Regions from separate parts of the Homo sapiens genome. Here region 2 is linked to region 1. The links come from fine-mapping of genetic effects on gene expression. A gene starts in region 1. The other region holds a variant in brackets. All regions are shown on one strand. Distances are from middle to middle.

What was found. PIP is the estimated chance that this variant, and not a neighbour inherited with it, causes the effect.
Region 2: its variant is fine-mapped to the expression of SPRYD4 in whole blood (TOPMed, PIP above 0.99). The same link has a PIP of 0.9 or more in esophagus mucosa, lung and monocytes.

The regions. Positions count from the first base shown.
Region 1 is chr12:56,466,926-56,469,836 of GRCh38, reverse strand. SPRYD4 (SPRY domain containing 4) reads right to left here and starts at 1,259. Exons shown (of 2, transcript NM_207344.4): 1 at 1,161-1,259; 2 at 1-798. The coding sequence starts at 1,245. The coding sequence ends at 260. RefSeq lists enhancers at 412-541, 962-1,011, 1,332-1,511, 1,522-1,591.
Region 2 is chr12:56,496,407-56,499,317 of GRCh38, reverse strand. No RefSeq gene overlaps it. Among named protein-coding and RNA genes, the nearest start is that of GLS2, 9.7 kb to the right of the region's middle. The variant C/T (reference allele first, on the strand shown) is at 1,453.

The DNA of each region.
Region 1 (2,911 bases):
GAAGGAAGCAGGTCAAGGAAGATACACCCATGGTAGCCTAGGAAATTGGCAGTAGTTGGTGGGTGGGGAAAAGGAGGGTTTGGCTGTATGCCTAGCTTTCACAAGGTAGGGGATGAGGAAGATGATCATGATATTGCACAGAGGACCCAACACTGAATTGTGGGAGCTAGAGGTTGCTTGAGGCAAAGTAAAAAGGCTTCGGACACTTTCAAAAGGAGGCTGGCCAAAGGCGTGATTAGGGACTCCAGTAATGGACATACTAGAGGCCCTCGGGCACCTCAAGCCCTGAATGGGTCAGCAGCTCCCCATCCCAGAGAGCAAAGGCAGGCACCACTGGACCCCGGAAATCTGTCTGTAGCGTGTGAACCACAGAGACCTGGCTCACATCCACCAGGCTCAGCTTCTGGGCCTCATACTCCAGCAACAGCCCCACCTTCTCTGGCTGCCCAATACCCTCAACTGGGGCTTTCTCGTTGGCCAACATGGTGTACCACTTGCGCTGGGCATAGGTGAACACCCAGGAACGATCATCAACACCAATGCAGCTATCCCGGGACATGTCCACATCTGCCACTCCTATCCGGAACTGCTGGGAGCGCTTCACTGTCACTTCCCAGTAGTGTCTGCCACTGGTGACCGCTGTGTCTGCCAGCACCACTGCCCACTCCCGGAAGCGCTCCACATTCAAGGCCACCTTGGTGGGCTCCAATCCCACCAAGCCATATTTGACACCCGTATCATCTCTGAAGAGTGCCAGGCTGCTGTGGGCGGTTTTTTCTTCCAGTTTGAAACTGACGCCTGCGGGCAGAGCAAAAAGACGGGATAATAACAGGGGCTAGAACCCTAGGGCTGGTGATATATTCAGATATGAGGCAGGCAGCCATGATACACGAGCAACTAGGGAAGAGTCAGAATGCCAAGCGGGCAAGAGAGTCGCGAGGTCGCTTTACTACGGATAGCTCACGGAGCTGAAAAACTCGGATTGAGTAAGTCCCGGAATTTAAAGAAACCAAATGGTATCACAGGTTTGGAATCTTAAGACCAAGGCAGGTGGGGAAGGAAAAGACCCGAGAGGGTTGGAGTTGCTTCTCGGAGTGGGGTCTGGGAATAATAGACGGCAGCCATTCTGGAGGTAAAAGAGTAAAAAGAGATAATCCTACCTCTCTGGGCCTCTGTGGAGGCAACTCCCAATCGTTTGGCTCCCCAGCGGCACAAGCGCAAAGAACGTGCAAAAAGCAGCGCCATCTTGCGCCTTGGATGAACCGGGCACGCCTCCCGCTTACAGACACAGCCATCTGCCCGCCCGCTCCCCTAGCACGTGGTGCGCGAGGGGCGGCCGCGCAGTGTTATGACGTAGGCGACGCCCGGGGGCGGGCGGCCGCCAAGGTAGTGGTTTCTGTTCTGTTTCTGCCCGCGGTTAATGCTGCTTATTCAGTTTTTCTGCGTAGACGAACGCTGCTCACATTTGAACTACGTAAAACTTTTAGAGATATAGTGTAGCCAGATGCTTAGAAGTATAGATTTTAAAATTAGACAGTACTGTAATTAGCTTTGATCCCGGCTTCACTGTGTGAGTTTGGGCAACTCACTCCACTTTTCTGAGCCTTAGTGTTCTAATTTATAAAATAGAAATTATATACAGACCTTAGTAATAATTAAGTGAGAATAATCTAGGCCGGGCGCGGTGGCTCACGCCTGCAATCTCAGCACTTTGGGAGGCCGAGGCAGGCGGATCACGAGGTCAGGAGATCAAGACCATCCTGGCCAATATGGTGAAACCCCGCCTCTACCAAAAGTACAAAAATTAGCCGGGCGTGGTGGCGCGCGCCTGTAATCCCAGCTACCCGGGAGGCTGAGGCAGGAGAATCGCTTGAACCAGGGAGTGGGAGGTTGCAGTGAGCCGAGATTCTGCCACTGCACTCCAGCCTGGTGACAGAGCAAGACTCCATCTCAAAAAATAATAATAATTAATCTAGATATATATTGGCAAATAGCAACCATTGGGTAATTCACAGTTGTTTATAATTAATAGTAAATACATAAATACTGTTAATGTTGGTTTTGTATGTTCAAGGCTAGGAACGGATGGTTTAACTCAGCATTCAGTTTTCTGAACTTAACCAAGAGTAGCAATATTTTGGTTCAGGGTATGAGGTAGGAGATTATGGACAGCCTATATTGAACATTTCGATCTGCATTCCATTTTATTTTATTTTTTGAGACAGGGTCTCATTCTGTCACCCAGGCTGCATGCAGCACAGTGGCGCAAACACAGCTCACTGCAACCTTCATCTCCGAGGCACAAGCGATCTTCCTGCTTCAGCCTCCCATGTAGCTGGGACCACATGTGCACGCACCATGCCCCGTTAACTTTTTTGTAGAAACGGGGGTTTCGCTTTGTTGACCAAGTTGTTCTCGAATTCTCGGGCTCAAGCCATCCTCCCACCTTTGCCTCCCAAAGTGCTGTGATTACAGGTGTTAGCCACTATGCCAGGCCTACATTTTTTTAATCAGTCCACTTCTCAAGGTTCTGCTGGCCAGTGCAATAGCAACATACATCCCACCTCCATCCTCCTACCCCTCAAAAAAGGATTTTAGATATATATTTTTAAAATGTATATTCTGAGACGGAGTGTCACTCTATCACCCAGGCTGGAGTGCAGTGGTTTGATCTTGGCTAACTGCAGCCTCTGCCTCTGGAGTTCAAGCAATTTTCCTGTCTCAGCCTCCTGAGTAGCTGGAATTACAGATGCCCACCAACCACACCTGGCTAATTTTTTTTTGAGACTGAGTCTCACTCTGTTGCCCAGGCTGGAGTGCAGTGGCGCAACCTTGGCTCACTGTAACCTCCGCCTCCCGGGTTCAAGCAATTCTCTTGTCTCAGCCTCCTGAGTAGCTGGGACTACAGGCG
Region 2 (2,911 bases), 29 kb before region 1:
CACAGGCTCCCTTAAAGCCTGGATCCTTTCCTACAAATCAGACTCAGTTAGAGTCACAGGCTCCCTTGAAGCCTGGTCCCTTTTCTACAAATCAGACTCGGGTAGAGTCACAGGCTCCCTTGAAGCCTGGATCCTTTCCTACAAATTGGACTCAGTTAGAGTCACAGGCTCCCTTGAAGCCTGGTTCACACTTGCCGTGGCAGCCTGGTTTTCAGGCCCATGAAAGACCTGCTCAGCAGGTAATCTGCTCTCACCCTGGCTTTCAGTTTTTCGACTCTCCTTCTATTCAAAATTCTACCTCTTTTTCTGCTCCTGGTCTGGTCGCAACTGCTGTTGCCAATACTACCATTGCCGCTCATAAGCAACAAATTACATACATCCCTGAAGATGACACTCTGCTTACGAGGGCTATAGTTCAGGCAAGGGAATATGGGGATCCCGAAGCTTGGCAATTTCCTGTAATTTTACAACCCCCAGTACCTGCCACCCCAGCAGTACAAAACCACCCACAGCCTGTTGTTGATCCTGCCCAGCAGGCGGCTGACCCCACAGCTCAACAAGATCAAGAGGCTGACAATTAAGCCCCTCAGCCTGAGAATCGGCTGCTTGGGTAAATAATCAGGCTCTGCAATTGCCTGCTCCTGGGGCACAGCCAATACCTGGCATTCCCGCTGTTCAGGCGGTAATTCAGCCTGACACCATCCATCCAGGCCAGGTTCAGCTACGCCCTGCTACATAGGAAAGTTTTTCTTTTAAATTCCTCAAAGATTTTAAGGAATCAGTGAAACAATATGGCACCAACTCTCCTTTTGTCCATTCCACATTAAAAGCCTTAGCAGAAGATAAACGTTTGGTACCCTATGATTGGGAAATTTTGGCAAAATCAGTCTTATCTAAATCCCAATATTTACAATTCAGGACTTGGTGGGTTGATGCTGTCCAGGAACGCATTCGTCTTAATCAGGGCTCTAATCCTCTTGTTAACGTTACGGCTGACCAGTTACTGGGAATGGGTCAATGGGCTGCAATCCGACACCAAACTATACTAAATGATGAGGTTATTGAACAACTGCGAAAATGTTGCTTAGATGCTTGGGACAAAATTCAAGATGATGGTAAAGTATGCCCATCTTTCACAGCCGTCAGACAGGGACAACATGAGCCCTACCCAGACTTTATTGCTCATCTTCAAGACGCAGCAGAAAAGGCTATTCCTGATAGCCACGGCCAAAGACTTGTTGTAGAACTTATGGCTTATGAACAAGCAAATCCAGATTGTCAGGCGGCTATTCGCCCCGTCAAAGGTAAAATTCCACCAGGTGGTGATATACTCACCTCCTACATTAAAGCCTGTGAAGGGGTGGGAGGAACTCTCCATACAGCAATGATTATGGCACAAGCTATGGCCTCTATTCGAATGCCTGGACAATTCTCTGGCCAATGCTTCATATG[C/T]GGCCAGAATGGACATGCAAAAAGAAATTGCCCTCGGCGTGCAGGTCGCCATCCTTTACATCACCAACAACAACAACAAAAAACTTTTCAGCAACAAGATGCCCCACCTTCTACTGTATGCCCACGATGCCAAAAGGGTCTTCACTGGGCATCTCAATGCCATTTCAGATTTGATATTGATGGCCATCCTTTACGGCCTTTTAAAAATCAGGGAAACAGGATGAGGGGCCGGCCCCAGGCCCCTCTAAACAATGGGGCATTCGTCAACTCTCAGCCCCGATGTAGGGACCAGCCCCACAGGGTCGGTAGGTCTCTCCCTGTGTGCAGCGATGAGAGAGTGTAGAAATAAAGACACAAGACAAAGAGACAAGAGAAAAGGCAGCTGGGCCCGGGGGACCACTACCACCAATGCGCGGACACCGGTAGTGGCCCCGAATGTCTGGCTGCGCTGTTATTTATTGGATACAAGGCAGAAGGGGCAGGGTAAAGAATGTGAGTCACCTCCAATGATAGGTAAGGTCACGTGGGTCACGTGTCCACTGGACAGGGGGCCCTTCCCTGCCTGGCAGCTGAGGCAGAGAGGGAGAGGAAGCAGAGAGAGAGACAGCTTACATCATTATTTCTGCATATCAGGGACTATTAGTATTTTCACTAATTTACTACTGCTATCTGGAAGGCAGAGCCAGGTGTACAGGATGGAACATGAAGGCAGACTAGGAGTGCGACTAGTGAAGCACAGCATCACAGGGAGACGGTTAGGCCTCCCGATAACTTCGGGCAAGCCTGACTGATGTCAGGCCCTCCACAAGAGGTGGAGGAGCAGAGTCTTCTCTAAACTCCCCTGGGGAAAGGGAGACCTCCCCCCCCCCCGCTTCCCGGTCTGCTAAGTAGCGGGTGTTGTTCCTTGACACCTTTGCTACCGCTGGACCACGATCCCCCTGATAACGGGCGTCTTCCCAGACGCTGGCGTCACCGCTAGACGAAGGAGCCCTCTGGTGGCCCTGTCCGGGCATAACAGAAGGCTCGCACTCTTGTCTTCTGGTCACACCTCACTATGTCCCCTCAGCTCCTATCTCTGTATGGCGTGGTTTTTCCTAGGCTATGATTATAGAGCGAGGATTATCATAATATTGGAATAAAAAGTAATTGCTACAAACTAATGATTAATGATATTCATATATAATCATATCTAAGATCTATATCTGGTATAACTATTCTTGTTTTATATTTTATTATACTGGAACAGCTCGTGTCCTCTGTCTCTTGCCTCGGTGCCTGGGTGGCTTGCCGCCCACATCAAATAAATAAATAAATAAATAAGCTGGGACAAGTGGCATGAGCTTAGAATGTCCCAGGCAAACAAGGAAATACGGTCATTCTAGCAATAATGACAAATATTCACCAATAGGGAATTTGTTAAATAATTATAATACATCCAGACAATAGAATACTATGAAGG